7 separate regions of the Homo sapiens genome follow, and all the other regions are reported to be linked to region 1. Evidence: microRNA targets listed by miRTarBase, many of them from high-throughput screens and not tested one by one. Region 1 holds a microRNA gene; each other region holds the end of a gene's coding sequence.

What was found. The annotated mature microRNA hsa-miR-6788-5p reads CUGGGAGAAGAGUGGUGAAGA and lies in region 1 at 2,000-2,020, opposite strand. An mRNA with a match to its seed (bases 2 to 7 or 8) in the 3' UTR can be bound and repressed. Matches are read on the target gene's strand: a 7mer-m8 pairs with bases 2 to 8, a 7mer-A1 pairs with bases 2 to 7 and ends in A, and an 8mer does both.
Region 2: miRTarBase lists INTS13 as a target of hsa-miR-6788-5p. Seed matches in the 3' UTR shown: 7mer-A1 at 2,425-2,431.
Region 3: the mRNA of LY6G5B is a reported target of hsa-miR-6788-5p. Seed matches in the 3' UTR shown: 7mer-A1 at 647-653.
Region 4: miRTarBase lists MAZ as a target of hsa-miR-6788-5p. The part of its 3' UTR that is shown has no 7-base or 8-base seed match.
Region 5: miRTarBase lists NUDT7 as a target of hsa-miR-6788-5p. The part of its 3' UTR that is shown has no 7-base or 8-base seed match.
Region 6: miRTarBase lists PGAM5 as a target of hsa-miR-6788-5p. Seed matches in the 3' UTR shown: 7mer-A1 at 1,202-1,208, 7mer-A1 at 1,234-1,240 and 7mer-A1 at 1,747-1,753.
Region 7: miRTarBase lists ZMYM1 as a target of hsa-miR-6788-5p. The part of its 3' UTR that is shown has no 7-base or 8-base seed match.

The regions. Positions count from the first base shown.
Region 1 is chr18:10,757,625-10,760,624 of GRCh38, forward strand. It overlaps MIR6788 (microRNA 6788), which reads right to left and starts at 2,025; the gene lies at 1,960-2,025. It overlaps PIEZO2 (piezo type mechanosensitive ion channel component 2), which reads right to left. Exons shown (of 56, transcript NM_001378183.1): 25 at 2,081-2,285; 26 at 1,858-1,959; 27 at 345-510.
Region 2 is chr12:26,902,868-26,905,950 of GRCh38, forward strand. INTS13 (integrator complex subunit 13) reads right to left here. Exons shown (of 17, transcript NM_018164.3): 17 at 2,314-2,669. The coding sequence ends at 2,630. Among named protein-coding and RNA genes, the nearest start is that of INTS13, 34 kb to the right of the region's middle.
Region 3 is chr6:31,672,053-31,675,129 of GRCh38, forward strand. LY6G5B (lymphocyte antigen 6 family member G5B) reads left to right here. Exons shown (of 3, transcript NM_021221.3): 3 at 1-1,494. The coding sequence ends at 230. Among named protein-coding and RNA genes, the nearest start is that of LY6G5B, 3.6 kb to the left of the region's middle.
Region 4 is chr16:29,809,770-29,812,863 of GRCh38, forward strand. It overlaps MAZ (MYC associated zinc finger protein), which reads left to right. Exons shown (of 5, transcript NM_002383.4): 5 at 308-1,395. The coding sequence ends at 462. It overlaps PRRT2 (proline rich transmembrane protein 2), which reads left to right and starts at 2,424. Exons shown (of 4, transcript NM_145239.3): 1 at 2,424-2,554. It overlaps MVP-DT (MVP divergent transcript), which reads right to left. Exons shown (of 4, transcript NR_186424.1): 3 at 266-404. RefSeq lists silencers at 1,797-1,876, 2,277-2,426.
Region 5 is chr16:77,741,370-77,744,463 of GRCh38, forward strand. It overlaps NUDT7 (nudix hydrolase 7), which reads left to right. Exons shown (of 4, transcript NM_001105663.3): 4 at 213-891. The coding sequence ends at 581. LOC107984878 (a long non-coding RNA gene) reads right to left here. Exons shown (of 6, transcript XR_002957866.2): 6 at 1,501-1,631. Among named protein-coding and RNA genes, the nearest start is that of NUDT7, 20 kb to the left of the region's middle.
Region 6 is chr12:132,720,625-132,723,718 of GRCh38, forward strand. It overlaps PGAM5 (PGAM family member 5, mitochondrial serine/threonine protein phosphatase), which reads left to right. Exons shown (of 6, transcript NM_001170543.2): 6 at 54-2,110. The coding sequence ends at 204. Among named protein-coding and RNA genes, the nearest start is that of PGAM5, 11 kb to the left of the region's middle.
Region 7 is chr1:35,114,868-35,117,961 of GRCh38, reverse strand. ZMYM1 (zinc finger MYM-type containing 1) reads right to left here. Exons shown (of 10, transcript NM_024772.5): 10 at 2,103-3,094. The coding sequence ends at 2,703. Among named protein-coding and RNA genes, the nearest start is that of ZMYM1, 37 kb to the right of the region's middle.

The DNA of each region.
Region 1 (3,000 bases):
AAGATGAGGATGAGCTATGGGGATGCAGAGGAGGGATAAGAGATGAGCAGGAGGACCCTCCACTGGAGAGCTGGTATTACTGGCACAAGTCAGTTTTGGTATGAAGAAGAGGAGGAGAACTGAGGCCATAAAGAGGCGGTTTACATTGACAAAAGCAGGTGCAGTGCTATAATTCAGAGGCTCAGCCTCCAGGCTGCTGAACCACATTGTCCAGCATTTATTAACTTCAGTGTATACAATTCAGCAGATCTGTTTCCCAAGTATAGCAGAGAAAGTATAGAGGAGCAATGTAATGGAAATGCACACATCAAAGTGGCTTTTAGCAAATGTGAAGCTCTTGTTACCTGCAGTGAATAAAATCTGGCACAGGGTTATGTTGGCTGAAGGAGGCCGCATCAAGGTTCATGCAGATCTCGACATTGTCACCTGCCATGATTCGCACTGCAGCCTTGTTCTCATCCTCAAAAATCTGCCGTTGTAAGGAGGCACACAGAAGCAGCATGAAGTCATCTAACAAGACAGAGGTGAGATCATTAAGCCGCCTCATCCTCTTCTGATTTACATAATGCAACACACAGTCATCACACAGCAACAGCCATTCCCCAGCTCCTAAGTGAGTTGTGTTCCCAAAGTTCATAGTAAAATTCATCCTGGAGTCCAATGTCGGGGCCAAGTCACACCTTCTCCACCTTGCAGGGCATAGAGTGACCACAGACACTCCAGGAGCTTACGTGGGGAGTCTCTGAATTTTGTTTGCACATCGGTGAGAGAAATATTAGGTGCTACTTACTAGTCTTCATGAGTCTCTTAGAGGGTAACATTTTTGTGTGTGTGTGTGTGAGACAGAGTCTCGCTCTGTCGCCCAGGCTGGAGTGCAGTGGTGCGATCTTGGCTCACTGCAAGCCCCACCTCCTGGGTTCACACCATTCTCCTGCCTCAGCCTCCCAAGTAGCTGGGAATACAAGTGCCCGCCACCATGCCTGGCTAATTTTTTTTACCTCCCACCAGTTTTAAGGAGGCCACTTGAGCAATTTCCCCATCTTTATCTTTTTATGTGTGGTGGATGCAGACATTCATTTTTCTTTATCCTTTCCATCCTCCTTTGCATTTGTAACCAAAGACTGTCCCCAAAGCAGAAGCCACACTGCAAGTGTGGTGAGAGCAGGTGGAGGTGGTGGACTGTGCTGGACAGCACAGCGCAGCCTGAGAGAGCTGTCCTCCCAGCAACTGCCCACAAAGGGCTGAGGCCAAGCCTGCCTGGAAGCCTGAACACAAGCTGCTTCCTTGCTTTTAAAATTAAACCTAAACTTGTTTAGGCAGGGCAGTCATTTGCATTTTCTGTAAAACCCAGCACTCTGGTCTTGGAGGAGCTGCTCTGACCTTTGGATCACCAGCTGCCATGGGAAGGCCTTGGGGCTGCAGCCCAATTCTAGAGCAACTAAAATCTGGGAAGCATCTCCCAGCATCCACTGTCCCATGTTCAGGGTTTATTTATCTGCACTGGGAGCCAGAAACCACCAAGTCAGAAAACACAAAAGCCTTCCTCTCTGGTCTGTCTTTTGAAAGGTGGCTGTGTAAATGTGTGTGTGTGTGTGTGTGTGTGTTTGTGTGTGTGTGTTGGGGGAAGTGAAATTATGCAAGTGAATATGGCATTTCCAACACTGATTTATTAATTTTGCAAATGTAATAGGGTGAGTAGAAGCCATTAATGACTTGTGATATTAATGCATAAGACAAGCCTTTACATGATTACGAAGTCTAGTGGAAGACAAAAGGCACTAATGCATAGCACGTGAACAATGATTAACAGTAAACCCGGATACCAGCACTCTGTGGCCCTGCAGTGGAAACACTTACAGACGAGAAACACAGGGTTGGGCCGCACAATGAAATCTGGGAAGTACAGCCACTTTATGATGTTGTCATTGAAGCTGGCACCCTTGAATCTCCACGGGTAATCTGCAGGGAGGGAAGTGGCGAACAGCACAATCAATACTCTTCTTCACCACTCTTCTCCCAGCCGTCCGCTCAGTAATGGCTTCTTCTAAAAGTAGACGGCTCAAGGGAAGGGCAGGCTCACCTCGGCAAGGAGCAGGTGGGATGCCAATGCAGATGAAATACTGGAAGGTGATGATGCATGCCAGGAAGCAGCAGTACTTGGGCCAGATCTCTGCGATGGCTTTCCTTCTGCGTCTATATAAGACAGCGATCAGCCAGCAGGCGTGGATCATGGCATAGAAATCCATTCGCTGGCCAATGACGTTAACTGACATTAGGAAACAGGTCTGTGTAAAGATGAAAAGAGGCAAAAAAAAAAAATCAGGCATATGGGAAAGGGGACTGGTGATAGGTGTCAGGTCTGTGTAGATGGCGGAGACCCATGTCCCTCAGGGCAAGTCTGTCTGCACAGATTCACAAATGCTTGCTCTTTTGAGTGTCTCAGCGTGAAGACAGAAATACTGTACAGATTACTCCCAGGGAAAAACTGACTAAGTAGCTGTTATCATAACCACTTCAGACAATAAAGAGAACAGCCATTTTGATCTCCTCATGAAACATCACCATTCCTACTTCATTCTATGAAGGCACAGGCACTATCACAATCGTTTTAGGTTAAAACAGTTCATTTTGGCTGCAGCTTATGGTTTCAGAATGCACAAAAAGAAAGAAGATTAATACTTTATTATTTATTTATTTTGAGATGGAATCTTGCCCTGTCACCCAGGCTAGAGTGCAGTGGTGCAAACTTGGCTCACTGCAACCTCTGCCTCCTGGGTTCAGGCAATTCTCCTGCCTCAGCCTCTCAAGTAGCTGTGATTACAGGCGTGCACCACCACGCCTGGATAATTTTTGTATTTTTAGAAGAGATGGGGTTCCACCATGTTGCCCAGGCTGGTCTCAAAGTCCTGACCTCAGAAGATCTGCCTGCCTTGGCCTCCCAAAGTGCTGGGATTACAGGCGTGAGCCACCGTGCCCAGGCAGAAGATTAATACTTTATTC
Region 2 (3,083 bases), not on the chromosome of region 1:
ACCAAGGCAATACTATTCAGGACACAGGCATGGGCAAAGACTTCATGACTAAAACATCAAAAGCAATGGAAACAAAAGTCAAAATTGACAAATGGGATCTAGTTAAACTAAAGAGCTTCTGCACAGCAAAAGAAACTATCATCAGAGTGAACAGGCAACCTACAGAATGGGAGAAAGTTTTTGCAATCTATCCATCGAACAAAGGGCTAATATACAGAATCTACAAGGAACTTAAAACAAATTTACAAGAAAAAAACAACCCCATCAAAAAGTGGGCGAAGAATATGAATAGACACTTCACAAAAGAAGACATTTGTGGCCAACAAACATACGAAAAAAAGCTCATCATCACTGGTCATTAGAGAAATGCAAATCAAAACCACAATGAGATCACATCTCATGCCAGTTAGAATGGCAATCATTAAAAAGTCAGGAAACAACAGATGTTGGAGAGGATGTGAAGAAATAGGAACGCTTTTACACTGTTGGTGGGAGGGTAAATTAGTTCAACCATTGTGGAAGACGGTGTGGCAATTCCTCAAGGATCTAGAACCAGAAATACCATTTGACTCAGCAATCCCATTACTGGGTATATACCCAAAGGATTACATATCATTCTACCATAAAGACACATGCACACGTATGTTCGTTGCAGCACTGTTCACAATAGCAAAGACTTGGAACCAATACAAATGCTCATCAATGTTAGACTGGATAAAGAAAATGTGGCACATATACACCATGGAATACTATGCAGCCATAAAAAAGGATGAGTTCATGTCCTTTGCAGGGACATGGATGAAGCCGGAAACCATCATTCTCAGTAAACTAACACAGGAACAGAAAACCAAATACTGCATGTTCTCACTCATAAGTAGGAGCTGAACAATGAGAACATATGGGCACAGAAAGGGGAACATCACACACTGGGGCCTGTCGGGGGGGTGGGGGAACAAGGGGAAGGATAAGATAAGGAGAAATACCTAATGTAGATGATGAGTTGATGGGTGCAGCAAACCACCATGGCACACGTATAGCTATGTAACAAACCTGCACGTTCTGTACATGTATCCCAGAACTTAAAGTATAATTTAAAAATAAATAAATAAAAGGTCAGAGCCCACTGAAAAGTAAATATGATCTATTAATTAGCTATTGGGTTATGGTTCCTTAAACCCCGAAAGTCTAAGATGTTAATTAGGCCTGGCCCTGCCTGTGTATGGTTTGTGTCAATGTATATCTAAACACAGTGGAATGGAGTAAAAGTAGCTCTATCTGAGGGAAGAGGACTGAGAATGAGACAGGAGTTGATAAAGGAGAGCAATGTCAATTTCACCAGGCTGACCTGGAAGGCTGCTGAACCCCTGTGTAAAGACCAGTTGTTTTTTTTTTTTTTTCAATAGAAAATACTGAGGGCCGGGTGCAGTGGCTCAGGCCTGTAATCCCAGCACTTTGGGAGGCCGAGGCAGGCAGATCATGAGGTCAGGAGATTGAGACTATCCTGGCTAACACGGTGAAACCCTGTCTCTACTAAAAATACAAAAAATTAGCCAGGCGTGGTGGTGGGCGCCTGTGGTCCCAGCTACTTGGGAGGCTGAGGCAGGAGAATGGTGTGAACCCGGGAGGCAGAAGTTGCAGTGAGCCAATATCGCGCCACTGCACTCCAGCCTGGGCGACAGTGCGAGACTTCGTCTCAAAAAAAAAAAAAAAAGAAAATACTGAGTCTGTATAAAGAGCTTCCTTTCTCTAATAAACACTCAAGGAAAAAAATGGCAAACTTACAATTAGCATTTAACATTGAAATAACCTACCTTTTGTAACATGTTATAAACTTCTAGATGAAGCAGCACAGGAAAAAGGCCCAAGAAACATATAACATGTAACCATGACATCTCTGAGAAATGAGACTAAGATTCTATCCAGAGATAAAATCAACCTAGTAACTTTTCTTTCTTCTAAATCTGTGAAGTAATTTCCTTTACGCTTCTCTTTCAATAAGAAAAGCAAATGGATGGAAAATATTTTGCAGAAAAATATAAAGAGTAAAACTACCCAATACTAGTAAATATAAAATTATACAACCTACCTGAAAGCTCTACTTTTAAATGGGTAAGAACACATATGCAAAATAACTTAAAACAAGATAAAAACAATGTTCTTTTTTAGAAAAGCACAATATATGATGCAGCTTAATAGGCAAAATTTTATATTAAGTATTGCAAATCTTAAACTCTCATCAAATTTTTAAAAATTCCTATAGGTTGTTTTCAGTCATTAAGTAACTAAAGTATCTTCTAAAGTAATTCTCCAATGTTTTGCATTTCAAATATTTTAATAGTTTTATTTCGCAAAGAGAAGCCTAAGAATTTTTTTAAAAACATTTCCAGAGAGAACACTTTATACCATAAAATAAACTTGTATAATTTGGGAGGACAAATCATCTCAAATGTATATTTTTGAATTATGTGCCAATTTTATAATTAGTACAAAAATGACAGCTGAAATATTTTAAAAATGTAAAAACCAGTCCAGGCAACATAACTATACCATCTTGCTGTAAAAGTACTTATATCGAATTCCGCACAAAATATTTTTGCAATATGCTAAATTTAGTTCTTCAAGTCACTCTTCACTGCCGGCTGGCTTTTCCATTTTCTGTTGTCTCCATCCTGAAATAGGAAGAAAAAAACGAGTTGATAAAATAAATATTCATTAACATTTTGTCTCCTTATCTACCTTTCACATGAAAATTAAAATAATATATTCACAGAACAGAACATCAGCATTTTAGGAAAGGACTAACATCAGGGTTCCTCTAGCTAGGCCAATTTCTTCATTTTACAGTGAAAATTGAGGCCTTGAGAGACTAAGTGACTTTCCCAAGGTTACAAGTCAAAGGCCACTGTTTTTTGTTTGTTTGTTTGACTATACCACACTCTCCCTTTCCAAGCAAAACTAAGGAAAAAATCTCTACAATTTCATCAAGAATTTATTTCCTTCCCCACTAAATAAATGTATTTCCACCAACAAATTAAGAGGATTTCTTCTAAAAAAATCAAAATAATCAGATCTGAGATTTATTT
Region 3 (3,077 bases), not on the chromosome of region 1:
TGCCTCTGTCTGACTCCCAGATTCAGTGGTTCTACCAGGCCCTGAACCTCTCCCTGCCCCTCCCCAATTTCCATGCTGGGACGGAGCCTGATGGCCTGGACCCCATGGTCACACTGTCCCTGAACCTGGGCTTGTCTTTTGCTGAGCTGCGCCGCATGTACTTGTTCCTCAATAGTTCAGGACTTTTGGTTCTTCCCCAGGCTGGACTCTTGACACCTCACCCTTCCTGAATTCCACAGTGCAAATATCTTTCTGTAACACCCTCAGCATCCTGCACTGCCCTCTCTGAAAACACCCACATTCTTTGGTCACTGTGATTTCTTAGGCCTCCGTCTGTTGTACCACTAGCATCTATATGACTTTTGTGTAATTTTCTCTCTTGAACTCTGGTGCTGTTTTTTTGTTTGTTTGAGACAAAGTCTCGCTCTGTCACCCAGGGTGGAGTGCAGTGGCATGATCTCTGCTCACTACAACCTCCACCTCCCGGGTTCCAGCGATTCTCCTGCCTCAGCCTCCCGAGTAGCTGGGACTACAGGCGTGCACCACCACGCCTGGCTAATTTTTTGTATTTTTAGTAGAGACGGGGTTTCACCATGTTGGTCAGGCTGGTCTCGAACTCCTGACCTCGTAATCTGCCCTCCTCGACCTCCCAAAGTGCCGGGATTACAGGTGTGAGCCACTGTGCCTGTCTGAGCTCTGGTGCTGTTCTTCCCCCTAGAAAAGAATCTCTAGTGTGGATTCTGCCCAGACAGGCTGACCTGAGAAAGGCACAGTGGTTCCTCCATTCCTTCCCCATCATCTGAGTGTTCCAGTATCCCCCATCCCTCTCAATCCAGTCACCTGCCTATTGACATCTAGCTCTGTTTCCCCTGTCTTGTCCATGTCTCTAAGACCCAGTACCAGACTGAACTAGCAGCAAGAAGGACGAGGAGGCCGGGCATGGTGGCTCACGCCGGTAATCCCAGCACTTTGGGAGGCCGAGGTGGGCGGATCACTTGAGATTGGGAGTTTGAGACCAGCCTGGCCAACATGGTAAAACCCGCTCTCTATTAAAAATAGAAAAATCAGCTGGGTGTGGTGGCACACCTCTGTAATCCCAGCTACTCAGGAGGCTGAGACAGGAGAATCACTTGAACCCGGGAGGCAGAGGTTGCAGTGAGCCGAGATCGCGCCACTGCACTCCAGCCTGGGTGACACAGTGAGACTCCGTCTCCAAAAAAAAGGATGAGGAATAGAATTCTGTGCAGATGTCCTGACTTGGCAATTTTGTGTCCCTGCCTCACTGTCTCCACCAACCCCCGCCTGTCCTAGTGTTGTTCTGCCTCCTGTCCTCTCTTGCTCTCTTGTCAGTCTCTGGCTTCCTCGGCCCCATTTCACTTCACTGAGTCCTGACACCCATCTCCCTAGGGGCCTGTGAGAGGAGAGGGAAGGGTCTGTTCTGCTCAGCTCCATGTCCCCCATTTTCCTCCACAATAAACTGGGACTGGGCTAAAACTGTGTCACATTGTTTGTGGGGTCAGGCTCAGGTGTGGGCAGGTAAACACAGATTAAAGAGGGTTAATGCCTGGCGCAGTGGCTCACGCCTGTAATCCCAGCACTTTGGGAGGCTGAGGCAGGCGGATCACCTGAGATTGGGAGTTTGAGACCAGCCTGACTAATATGGAGAAACCCCATCGCTACTAAAAATACAAAATTAGCCGGGCTTGGTAGCGCATACCTGTAATTACAGCTACTCGGGAGGCTGAGGCCGGAGAATCACTTGAACCTGGAAGGTGGAGGTGGCGATGAGCCGAGATTGCACCATTGCACTCCAGCCTGGGCAACAAGAGTGAAACTGTGTCTCAAAAAAAAAAAAAAAAAAAAGGGTTAGTGAGGTTTGGGATCCAAATAGGATTGCAGAGCCCTCTCCATTGCACTTGGCGTTTGTCGCTTCCTCTCGGCCTCCTGTAAAGGGCACACATCCCTCCCCACCCTCTGCTTAGCTGGAGATCAAAGCATGGGGACTGTGATTCTTCCCAGCCTTAAACATACCCTACAAAACCTGGAAAGTTAGACCCTGATGATGCCAGGTCTTTTCACCTAAGAAAAGAAACTTTAGGCCAGGTGCGGTGGCTCATGCTTGTAATCCCTGAACTTTGGGAGGCCGAGGTGGGTGGATCACCTGAGGTCGGGTTTGAGACCAGCCTGACCAACATGGTGAAATCTTGTCTCTACTAAATATGAAAAATTAGCTGGGCATGGTGGCTCATGCTTGTAATCCCAGCTACTTGGGAGGCTGAGGCAGGAGAATTGCTTGAACCGGGGAGGTGTAGGTTGCAGTGAGCTGAGATCACGCCATTGCACTCCAGACAGGGCAACAAGAGCGAAACTCTGTCTTAAAAAAAAAAAAAAAAGCCTGGGCGCGGTGGCTTGCCTGTAATCCCAGCACTTTGGGAGGCCGAAGCAGGCGGATCATGAGGTCAGGAGTTCGACACCAGCCTGACCAACATGGTGAAAGCCCATCTCTACTAAAAAAAAAAAAAAAAAAATTAGTTGGGCATGGTGGCACGTGTCTGTGATCCCAGCTACTCAGGAGGCTGAGGCAGGAGAATCGCTTGAACCTGGGAGGCAGAGTTTGCAGTGAGCCGAGATCGTGCCACTGTACTCCAGCCTGGGTGACAGACCGAGACTGTCTCCAAAAAAAAAAAAAAAGAAACTTTCTCTTTAAACCAGAAAGACTCAGGAACTCAGAGCCACATGCCAGAGTTACCTGCTGCTGGGGCCCTGGACTCCTGCCATTCCTTAGTTCTTTTCAAGGATTCTGGCATCCAGGATGCCCTCTCGAGGGGCCCAATTTGAGGGGCAAAGTGCTGAGAGCACTGATGTTGGGCTGCAGTGGTTGGATCTTCATGCTAATATTTTAATTTTGAAATAGTGCAAACGTATAGAAAGCAAGGATGGATACAACAGCCTTTTCCATACACTGGATAAACATGCTGGACATAACGCTGCTCTGAGTCAGGCTTGGTATTGAGCAGCAGGACTCCCAGATGAGTATAGCCAGGTGTCTGCCCTTCCAAGTCTTGCAGCCCAGTGCT
Region 4 (3,094 bases), not on the chromosome of region 1:
GCGTGGGGCATGGCTGGGGGGCGGGATGGGGGGTGTGGGGGACAACGGGGCTCAAAGGGCCCAATAGGGGATCTCAGGAAGGCGAGGGATGCCCATGTACCACTCAGGCTAGGGAGACTTCTGGGCACAGGGAGGATCCTTGAGAACTGCTCTGTCTGGGTGAGGATGCAGGCTGAGGCCTCTGGGGTCCAGATAGGAAGTGAGCAACGGCTGTGTCCCAGGGGAAGCAGGCTGGGAAGGTGTGGGGTGAGGGCAAGGCTCTTGCCATTCAGATCGCGCTGTGATCCGTGGTGTTTCTCCTGTGCAGGTACTGGTGAGGTTTGTCCAATGGCGGCGGCAGCGGCAGCGGCGGCAGCGGCAGCAGCGGCAGCAGTAGCAGCCCCTCCCACAGCTGTGGGCTCCCTCTCGGGGGCGGAGGGGGTGCCTGTGAGCTCTCAGCCACTTCCCTCCCAACCCTGGTGAGCTCCAAGTTGGTTGCGGGGGAGAGGGGAGAATGGAGTAGAGTCCCTTGGTACAAGCTCCTCTCCCCCCTCTTTTCCCACCAACTCCTATTTCCCTACCAACCAAGGAGCCTCCAGAAGGAAAGGAGGAAGAAATGTTTTCTTAGGGGAATTCGCTAGGTTTTAACGATTTGTTTCTCCTGCTCCTCTTCTGTCAGACCTGACCCCACACAAACCTGTCCCCTCGGTTGTGTTGAAGTCCCCTGGACAGTGGGCAGGGGTGGCAGAGGACACGAGCAGCCACTGCCCGTACCCCCTCTCCTCTCTGTAAGCCCATGCCCTGTCTTCCCAGGGACTTGTGAGCCTCTTCCCTCGACGGTCCTCTTCTCTCCTTCCAGTCCTCTCCCCCTGCTGTCTGCAGCCCCTCCCCGGGGAGTTGGTGCTTTCTTTTCCTTTTTTTTTTTTTTCCAGGGGGAGGGAGGAGAGGAAGGAGGGGGATCAGAGCTGTCCCAAAGAGGGAAAGCGGTGAGGTTTGAGGAGGGGCAGAAGCAGGGCCGGCAAAGGTTGTACCTTCATAAGGTGGTATGGGGGGTTGGGGTCAGGCCCTGAACATCGTCCTACTTGAGAATCTGTCAGGGGAAAAAGTCAAGGGGAGCAGGAGGAAGAGCCAGGAGGGCCAGAGGCAGAGAAGAGATGGAGTCTTAGGGGCCAGGGTGAGCGAGGGGTCCAGGGCCTAGAGGTGCTTCCTGGGGGCGGGGGAATGCAGCCAGTGTCCCCCTCCCCTCTTCCACCCCAGCTCCAGCCCTGGTCTTGTCTTTTCATCCCTCTTCCCCACGACAGAAGAAGTTGTGGCCCTGGCCATGTCATCGTGTTCCTGTGTCCCCTGCATGTACCCCACCCTCCACCCCTTCCTTTTGCGCGGACCCCATTACAATAAATTTTAAATAAAATCCTGTTTCTGGCTCTGGATTGAATGAATTGCCCTCACTAAGAACTGCCGCCAACCCCAAGGGTTTCTTCTCGGCCTGGTGTCCGTCAATCCAGCCTTGCTCTGCCCTGTGAGGCTGTGAGGTTCTGGCTCCGCCCTCCCCAGGGGCAGCCTTACTGGCGGCAGCACAGATACAGGGCGGGGCCAAGGCTGTGGCTGTGGAGAGCAAGTTCCAGGTCTCTGGGGAATTCCCAACTCGGACAGGCCCAGAATAGCCCCTGGAGGTTTGAAGAGGCCCCGTCAGAAACCCAAACAGAGCTGCCAGACGGGAATGCCGCCCTCCCCCGTCCACACTCATGGCCGCTGCTCAGCCCCCAGCCGCATCCCTCCCCACGCGCGTCACGGCCCTGAGGCCATGGTGGGTGGATGCGGCTGCGGAAAGGCTGGGGAGTCCGAGCCCTAGGACTGGGAGCAGCGAGGTAGAGAATGAAAGCTGCACCTGTCCCTCATCCTGGGCATGGGCCACTCTGTGTTTACACGGGCTCCTCTGCCCAGCTCCTCCTGCCCCTTGGAATTCCCTTTCCTGTCCCCGCTCCGTCCTTTCCAGGGCCCCTTTTTTGAGCCTTCCAGCGCCAGTTTCTGCCGCTCCTTTCTGCAGGCTCCATTCTCTCCAAACCCCACCCTGCTCCTCCTCTGCAGCCTCCCCGCGTCTTGCCCCATCTTCCTTGCCCTCCTGCTCGTAGAGACGCCTCCACCCGGTCCTGCCTGTCTCACTGGTCCCGTCTCCTCGCAGAACCCTCTCCGTTTCCCCCAAATCCCCGTCTCTTCCAGGAATCCCGGTGACCGTTGGCGGGAGGGGCCGGGGACTTAAGAAGGAGGCGTCTCTCCTGGAGGCGCGCGTGAGAAGGGGCAGGGAGGGGGCGCGAGTGGTCCCCGGGCCGGTTGCCTGGGTAACGCGTGGCTCCCTTGGGCTGGCGGGAGGGGCCGGAGGCTCGCGAGGGGCGGGGGCGGCGACGGCGGCGGAGCGTAGGGGAGGGGACCGGAGAGGAGGGGATGAGCACACGGGAGAGGAGAAGAGGGAGACCCGCCGCCTCCCTCCCTCCCTAGCTGACTTGCTCCCTCCCGGGCTGCGGCTGCTGCAAAAGCCAGCAGCGGCAGCGGGAGCTGTCCGGAGGCCGGCGTCGAGGTGAGACCCGGGCAGACTGAGGCTGCGGGTAGGAGTGGACCGACCGACGGCTGACGCCGGGCGGACTGCACGGGAATGCGGGTGTCTGGAGGGCTGGTGGTGGTGCTGGGCGGGCTGAACCATCGGGAGGAGGCGCCAGCCCACCGAAGGCGAGGGAAGCCCCGGGAGAGGGGCTGACAGGGGATCGAAGGAGATAACCAGGTCCCCCAGAAAGGGGCGGGAGCGTCCTCGCCCTAAACGCGCAGCAAGAAAACCCGCACCGCCTGGGAGCCCAGGGAGGAGGGGAGGATGCAGAGGGAGTGGAATGCGAATGTCGGGTCCTCTGCCCAGTCGGCCTGTCGGAGTGCTATTTGCACAGCTCGTTGATTTTGGGGTGCTGGGATCTGAGAGTCTGGATCTTGTTGGATGGACCCAGGGAGAGACCCTGGAGAAGGTCCTGTTTACAAAAGGGTTAATCTTCCCCAGGGCTCTCCAAGCAGAAGACTTTGAGTAGAGCACTCCTCCCGCAGGGATGTCCCACCCTAAGGCAAAGGAAACCCC
Region 5 (3,094 bases), not on the chromosome of region 1:
TCATTTTCAGAGTCATCTCATAGATGTCACCTCAGGTAGAGCAGGATGACTCCCATTTTAGGGGGAACATAAATTTGTTTCCGGAATAAGCTTTCTTCCCCTTCTCCCAGGTTCGGTGTATTTTCTTAGCTCACCTAGAAGTGGCATGATTTTAGGATTTGAAGCAGTATCACTTCACTTCTTAATTTGTCTGTTTTGTTTTCTGCTTTTAGACAGATACATTGATAACTCCATTTGTGGGTTTAATAGACCACAACTTCCAGGCCCAGCCGAATCCTGCTGAAGTTAAGGATGTATTCCTGGTGCCTCTGGCCTATTTCCTGCATCCACAGGTCCATGACCAGCATTACGTCACACGTCTTGGTCACCGTTTTATTAATCATATCTTTGAGTACACAAACCCTGAAGACGGTGTCACTTACCAGATCAAGGGAATGACGGCAAACCTTGCAGTGTTGGTGGCCTTTATCATTTTGGAAAAAAAACCCACCTTTGAGGTTCAATTTAATCTTAATGATGTATTAGCATCCTCTGAAGAGTTATTCCTGAAGGTTCATAAAAAAGCTACAAGCAGGTTATGATTTACTAGAGCAAGAGACAAAGAACTATTCACGAGGATTCTGTGTGTGCTTATTCGTAGAACAACAACAATGCCAGCTGTTGGAATTTGACAGGTGTGAATATTTTTTCTGCAGTATGTAGTTAGAATCCTTGCCTCTTTTCCAGTTGCCTTCTATTGTCTGAAAAAGTAAAAGCCATTCAAAAATGAAAACTATGTTCATAGTGTTGCATATTTTCACCCACAATATGTTAATAATATTTTTCTTACACATATAATAAAGAATATCTGGCACATACTAGGCCCTTAATAAAGATTTTTTGAATATATAACCATGTGGCATTTACCTTATTTGCAGTAGGCAATATATATACACATATATAATATACACACACATATACACACACACACACACATATATTTATAATATATATATATAATTTTTTTTTTTTTGGAGAGAGACTCTTGCTCTGTCACCCAGGCTGGAGTGCGGTGGCACAATCTTGGCTCAGCTCACTGCAACCTCCACCTCCTGGGTTAAGCGATTCTCCTGCCTCAGACTCCCAAGTAACTGGGATTACAGGCGCCTGCCACTACACCTGGCTAATTTTTGTATTTTTAGTAGAGATGGGTTTTTGCCATGTTGGCCAGGCTGGTCTCGAACTCCTGACCTCAGGTGATCCACTTGCCTTGGACTCCCAAAGTTCTGGGATTACAGGCATGAGCCACCACACCCAGCTGGCAATATATATATTTTTAATCTGTTGTACATGTAACAGAAACTTCTGGTCATCCATCAAAATCTATCTTCCCTGTCTTCTATGGTGGTAGAGTTTAAGCTGGGTCCCCAGCACTCCAGGTATAAACAGCATTACTCCGGATCCCTTGCAATTCAAGTTGACTCTGGGACTTACTTTAGGCCAATGGGTTATGGGTGAAAGTTGACTTTCCAGGTCATCTCCAATCTAAGACATAAGCCAGTGTTCTTGAGTCCCTTTGGTTCTTTTTTTCCATGAGCTGCAACATGGACTTCTCTGCAACCCAGCCTTGACCATACAAATGAGGACATTCTCTGGGGGAATGGCAGAACCGAAAGATGTCAGAGCTTGAATCGATGAATGACTCTGTGGAGCAAAGTAACCTTCTAACCTGGGCTCTTCACTTGGTACTGTTACATCAGAAAAGAATAAAATTCTGTATCATCCGTCTGCCACTGTAATTCGGAGTCACTTTTCTATAGCAGAGCTAACCAATACGCTCCAGCACCTGAAAATAACTAGAATATTCATCTGAACTTGAAGTGTTGCAAGCAGTTAGAAATGGGGATGATCTGACACTTTATTTATTTTATTTTATTTTTTTGGGACAGAGACTCGCTCCTTCACCCAGGCTGGAGTGCAGTGGCGTGATCTCGGCTCACCGCAACCTTCACCTCCAGGGTTCAAGCGATTCTCCTGCCTCAGCCTCCCAAGTAGCTGGGATTACAGGTGCCCACCACCACGCCCAGCTAATTTTTTTGTATTTTTAGTAGAGATGGGGTTTCACTATGTTGGTCAGGCTGATCTCAAACTCTTGACCTCAGGTAATCTACCCATTTCGGCCTCCCAAAGTGCTGGGATTACAGGCATGAGCCACCGAGCCTGGCCAATCTGACACCTTACATGTGGCTTCTGGGGAACACATAGGATGCCCTCCCTGGGTGGGAGGTGGGGTTCAGCAATCATCCAAAACAGCTGAAATTGAGGAATATAAGAGGCTTATATGCCTACCAATTGGGAGGGATAATGATGTATGTTTCGAGATGATGACGGCAGCAAAATAGTGATTTAAAGCATAAGCCCCAAATCAAAAGACGAAAAGACAGACATTCTGTAATGCACCCTTGAGATCTTCTACTTCTTATGTGGGTATCTGCCTATATCATGCTTTAGAGTTAGCATGGATTTTTTTGTTTAATTATATTCATCATCCTTCATGAGGCCAGAGAGGCAAGTGAGTCAAGCAACCTAACCACAATTCTGTGATGGCGATTTCACATCTTATTGTTGTTATTAGCTTTTTAGAGAGCCAAACCATGTTTAATAAGACTTTGTTATAGTTGAAAATGTGATGCCCACACCAAACCTATCAATCAGCCATGTGACTGTCCATTGCGGCTGAGTTTTTCTTTTCTGAGAGTTGGCAAAGGCAAATACCTGATTGGCTGCTTTATACCCATATATGTTTAAATGGCAGAGATCTGGTTCCAACCATGAAAGCAGATGTTGGGTACGTTACCCCATTAACATTCTGTAACCAGCCCTGCATGAACAGGCCTGAACTATTTCCGAACAATTACAGAAGCATTTGCAAATGTGTATTTACAATCTGACAGCAGTATAATTGCCGGGTAGATGGTTGACCTCTCCGACAGTGCAGAAAGCCTCCCTTCCAAACTGTTTGTTTATGTGAACTCTCCCAGATCTGCCTGGTCCAGCTGAAGTCAATCTGAGCACACCCATGGCCACACAATTTATGGGGCTGGATGCTTAGCAA
Region 6 (3,094 bases), not on the chromosome of region 1:
GACAGAGCCCCCTGGCTCTAACGTGCTCTTTCTCTCTCTCTCTCTCTCCCCAGAGCACTGCAGTTTCCTCCTGAAGGCTGGCTCCGGCTCTCCCTCAATAATGGCAGCATCACCCACCTGGTGATCCGACCCAACGGCCGAGTTGCGCTCAGGACCCTCGGGGACACGGGGTTCATGCCTCCCGACAAGATCACTCGATCCTGAGGGCTCCGGCCTCTCCTTCCCTCTGTCCTCCCTGCACAGGCCGCACACACTTAACGTTTTGTTCCCAAGGAGACCGGCGGAAAGTAGAAACCTGCAATGCTGCATCTGGGAACTGACTTGTGACCAGGCTGAGAAGGGGAGAGTTGGGATCAGACAGCCTGACTTCTCTGCAGGGTTTTATACCTGACCATGAACCCCCAGGATGGCGTGGGGTTTAAGGTGAAAGCGTCTCACGCACAAGTCAGGCCTGTTGTGGGGACTTGAAAGAGGCCTGACCCAGACCACCATGTTCGCACCCACAGCTGACCCGTGCTGAGGGTCCAGGCTCCATTGGCAAAGCCGGTCAGGCACGAGGGCGACTGAGGCACGTGGATGAGGAGGGCACCCAGGTTCTGTTCACAACTCACTTCACTTCATACATCCTTTTAATTTCTTAAAACCCTCTTGTCCCTTAAATATTTGTCAATTAAAGATTTTCTGGCTGGGCACAGTGGCTCACACCTGTATTCCCAGCTACTCAGGAGGCCAGGGTGGGAGGATCACTTGAGCTCAGGAGTTCAAGACCAGCCTGGACAAGGCAACATAGCGAGACCCTGTCTCTACTAAAAATACAGAACTTAGCTGGGTGTGTCGTGGGCATCTAGAGTCCCAGCTACTTGGGAGGCTGAGGTGGGTGGATCACTTGGGCCCGGGAGCTGGAGGCTGCAGTGAGCTGTGATTGTGTCACTGCACTCCAGCCTGGGCAAGCGAGGGAGACTTAAAGCAATTTTTTCTTTTGAAACGGAGTTTCACTCTTGTTGCCCAGGCTGGAGTGCAGTGGTGCGATCTCGGCTCACCGCAACCTCTGCCTCCTGGGTTCAAGTGATTCTCCTGCCTCAGCTCCCGAGTAGCTGGGATTACAGTCGCCCACCACCATACCTGGCTAATTTTTTGTATTTTTAGTAAAGACAGGGTTTCATGGAGAAACCAATATAGAATTGTTCAGGCTGGTCTCGAACTCCCAACCTCAGGTGATTCACCCACCTTGGCCTCCCAAAGTGCTGGGATTAAAGGTGTGAGCCATCGTGCCTGGCCTAAAAAATTTTTTTTTCTTCATCTGGGTTTTTGCTTTGAAAACAAGTTTCTCCAAATTTACAGATTTCCTGATGATGTTGGGTCTGAACTCACCAACTTGATTAGGTCTTTAGGGGCCGAGGGACTAGCCAGCTGCACAGGTGACTGGATGGGGGAGGGGCAGGTGAGGTGGGTCTACAGAGGTGGCTTCGCCTTTGACCTTCATGCTGGTCTCGGCTGAGGTGACACGCTAGTGACAGCCCAATAGGGGGTTACCCTTATTGAGTAAAATACTTCAGATTGACAGCTCAATCTTAGTTTGCCTCCAGTTAATCTTTTATGCTTAGGGATTAAATGTGTGGTTTTTTTTTTGTTTTTTTTTTTTTGGAGACGGAGTCTCGCTCTGTCACCCAGGCTGGAGTGCAGTGGCGCGATCTCGGCTCACTGCAACCTCTGCCTCCTGGGTTCAAACGATTCTCCTGCCTCAGCCTCCCAAGTAGCTGGGATTATAGGCGCCCACCACCATGCCTGGCTAATTTTTTATTTTTAGTAGAGATGGGGTTTCACCGTGTTGGCCAGGCTGGTCTCGAACTCCTGACCTCGTGATCTACCCACCTCGGCCTCCCCAAGTGCTGGGATTACAGGCGTGAGCTAGCATGCCTGGCCAGGGATTAAAATATTCAAACATGTTGTGTGTACCCAGATATGCTGTTAATTTAGGAAAAACAGTACAATTTCTATGAAGTGGTTGTGACTATTTTCTGTAGTCAATACAGTTGGGATATCTGATCTATTTCTCTGTCTACTTTGGAAATGATTGCATAATAAATAAAATTTTACTGTTTTTTTAAAAGGACTAGTTGTGAGTGTGTTAAAAGCGTGGAACTTCGGCCGGGCGCGGTGGCCACGCCTGTAATCCCAGCACTTCAGGAGGCCCAGGCAGGTGGATCATGAGGTCGGGAGTTCAAGACCAGCCTGACCAACATGCTGAAACCTCGTCTCTACTAAAAATACAAAAATTAGCCAGGTGTGGCAGGCGCCTGTAATCCCAGCTACTCAGGAGGCTGAGGCAGGAGAATCGCTTGAACCCGGAAGGCGGAGCTTGCAGTGAGCCGAGATCGCTCCACTGCACTCCAGCCTGGGCCACAGAGCAAGACACCATCTAATAAGAAAAAAAAAAAAGGAAACTTGTGCAGTGTGAGAAACGATGGTGTCACCAGAACCCTTTGCACAGTGTCCTGTCTCCCCGTGGCTGACGCCTCTGCCCGCATCGCACCGGCTGCCTGCTCAGAGGACTTCCGCCAGTGGCCTGGGCCCTTTCCAAATCCCTGACCAGGACGGCAAGGCTGACCAATGGTTGTGGAGACAACAGCCACAGCAACCATACACCACTGTCTAGAAATAGTTTGATAAGCCAGGGACGCGCCAACTTCAAAAACAAATACCAGGCACGCTCACGTTTGACCTCAGACGGGAGCAAGGCTGGCGAGGAAGCAGTCCGGGATGCTCTAAGTCAGCTACACAGGGCGCCCACGCCACAGCCCCAACGCTGGGCCTCCAGGGATGGGGCAGCGCTGCAGGGCTAAGCCTTTGTTCTGCTTAGGGCCCCGGCTCCTCTGTAAAGTGGGAAAGCTTGGAGGTGGGAGCAGCGCCAGCACGCCTGGCACTGAGGCAATGCTCAGAGCAGGCGCAGGTTTGCTGGGCAGCAAAGCTCATCACAAAGTGGAATGACCACACATCAGCTGGCCCCAATGCCCTGCGCAGCCCACGGCCACTCCCATCGCTCACGTCATAGACGTGAGTCGCACTCATGTGAAGATCTGGACAGACTACCTGG
Region 7 (3,094 bases), not on the chromosome of region 1:
AGCCTATTTTCTCTCTTTTTTGAAACGGAGTTTCTCTCTTGTTGCCCAGACTAGAGTGCAATTGCACGATCTCAGCTCACTGCAACCACAGCCTTTGGGGTTCAAGCTATTCTCCCGTCTCAGCCTCCCGAGTAGCTGGTATTACAGGCATGTGCCACCACGCCCGGCTAATTTTATAGTTTTAGTAGAGACGGGGTTTCTCCATGTTAGTCAGGCTGGTCTTGAACTCCCGACCTCAAGTGATCTGCCCGCCTCGGCCTCCCAAAGTACTGTGATTACAAGTGTGAGCCACTGCGCCAGGCCTGTTTTCTCTTTTTTAAGGTGGAAATCAATAAATTAGGGCCGGGCATGGTGGCTTATGCCTGTAATCCCAGCACTTTGGGAGGCCAAGGTGGGTGGATCACCTGAGGTCAGGAGTTCGAGACCAGCCTGGCCAACATGGTGAAACCCCATCTCTACTAAAAATACAAAAAAATGAGCCAGGCGTGGTGGTGGGCACCTGTAATCCCATATACTTGGGAAGCTGAGGCAGGAGAATCACTTGAACCCGCGAGGTGGAGGTTGCAGTGAGCCAATATCACGCCACCGTACACTCCAGCCTGGGCAACAGAGCGAGACTCCGTCTTAAAAAATGAAAGAAAGAAAGTAAAACAGGTATATAGAAGATACTGAGAATATTTTCTACAACTCTAGGCAAATGCATTTGAAAGAAAGCCTCAATGAAATAGATGTTCTCCTAGAAAAAGTACAAGTTATCAAAATTGATGAGAGGGTAAGGGAGAAACAGCTGGAGAAAAGTGCCAGAGAAATAGTCTTTAAAAAAAAAAAAAAGGCCGGGCGCGGTGGCTCACGCCTGTAATCCCAGCACTTTGGGAGGCCGAGGCGGGCGGATCACGAGGTCAGGAGATCGAGACCACGGTGAAACCCCGTCTCTACTAAAAATACAAAAAATTAGCCGGGCACAGTGGCGGGCGCCTGTAGTCCCAGCTACTCGGGAGGCTGAGGCAGGAGAATGGCGTGAACCCGGAAGGCGGAGCTTGCAGTGAGCGGAGATCGCGCCACAGCACTCCCGCCTGGGCGACAGAGCGAGACTCCGTCTCAAAAAAAAAAAAAAAAAAAAAAAAAATTCCAGGCCTAGATATATATACCACTTAATTCTTTCAAATCTTTGAATATCACATTTTCTTTGTTATTTAAACTTTTCTGGCTGGGCGTGGTGGCTTATGCCATAATCCCAGCACTTTGGGAGGCCCAGGTGGGCGTATTACCTGACGTCAGGAGTTCAAGACCAGCCTGGCTAACATGGTGAAACCCCATCTCTACTAAAAATACAAAAATTAGCCAGGCGTGGTGGCGTGCGCCTGTCATCCCAGCTACTTGGGAGGCTGAGGCAGGACAATCACTTGAACCTGGGAGGCGGAGGTTGCAGTGAGCCGAGATCATACCATTGCACTCCAGTCTGGGCAACAAGAGCAAAACTCCATCTCAAAACAAAAACAAAACTTTTTTGAAGTATAAAGAAATAGTCTTTTCTTTGCAGGTTACTTAAATATAGTTATATTTTCATAACATGGCTTAATAATTTATTGTGCCATCCAGCTGAGATGTATAAATCAAAACCACAGCAGTGATTTTAACGTTTAAACAGGACAGTCTACAAAAAAGGAAATACAAATGGCTCAAACAAATAAACAGATACCTAACTTCATTCTTGTTTGTTTTAAAGAGATAAGGTCTCACTCTGTTGCCTAGACTCTGGAGCATAGTGGTGCAATCATGGCTCACTGCAGCCTCAAATTTCTGGGCTTAAGCAATCCTCCTGCCTCAGCCTCCCAAGTAGCTGGGACTTCGGGTGTGCAGTACCACACTTCACTAATTTAAAAAAAAAAAAATTGTAGTGATGAGGTCTTACTATGTTGCCAACCTCATCTTGAACTCGTGGCCTCAAGCGATCTTCCTTCCTGTGTAGGCCCTCAAAGGGCTGAGATTATAGGTGTGAACCACCACGCCCAGTCCCCAACCTTATTCTTAAGTGAATATACAAAATTCTACTGAGATTAAAACGCCATTTTTAAAGTAAGAGATTAGGAAAGATCAAAACATTTGATAACACTTACAAAGATTTAATAGGCACTCTCATGCATTGTGGGTGGGACTGTAAACTGGCACAATCCTTATAGATGGCAACTTGCCAATATCTATCAAAAGTAAAAATGCACATATCTTAACCTAGTAATTCTAACTTTAGATTTCCAGCTTACAGTAAACTCACTCATGTGCAATGTGACCTATATAAAAGGTTATAAAATGAATCATTATTTATAATAGCAAAAGGTTAGGAAAAAAATGTCAGCAGGGACTGCTCAAATATATTATGGTACATTCATACAATAACATCTGCAATTATAGACCAAGAATCAAGAAACTCTTCATGTAACGACATGGGACAATCTCAAAAATATGTTACACAGAGAAGACAAGCTGAAGAACAGTATACACCGTACAATACCACTTAGGAAAAATACCTCTAGAGGGATATTTAAGGAAAAGATAACACTTTTTGGGAAGAGAAAATGAGTTCTAAAGGAGGGAAGGAGACTTCACTGTTTATCGTTCTGTGTCTTTTGAATTTTGAACAATTTTGAAATGAAAACATCCCAATGGAAATACAAGTCTTTTAGGTAAGTTCAAATGAGCATGTATTATATTTCTTTCATCTGACTGATAAACTTTTCCACAATTTCATTGAGTCTTTCAGGCTCCATTAGTTTATTTACCAACTCCTGCTCAACAGCCATTAGGGCTGGGCCAGTAAGCTTCTCTTGTCCCATGGTATTACATAAATATGTCTTAAGACGAGGCAGGGTAGAAAATGAGTTCTCAGTACTTGCTGAAGTAATTGGCCAAGACAAAGCAATATATAATAGCTTTGAGAGACAAGGAATATTACTGTGAAGACCATGCTGAATAAACAAACAGCCGAGACTGACGAAGTTTATGCAACTATCATCTATGACAAAGTTAAGCTTTGCATAATGTCGATAAAATCTAAGTTCTGGGATAATGTCCTCATCAAGTTTATAAAATTCCTGAA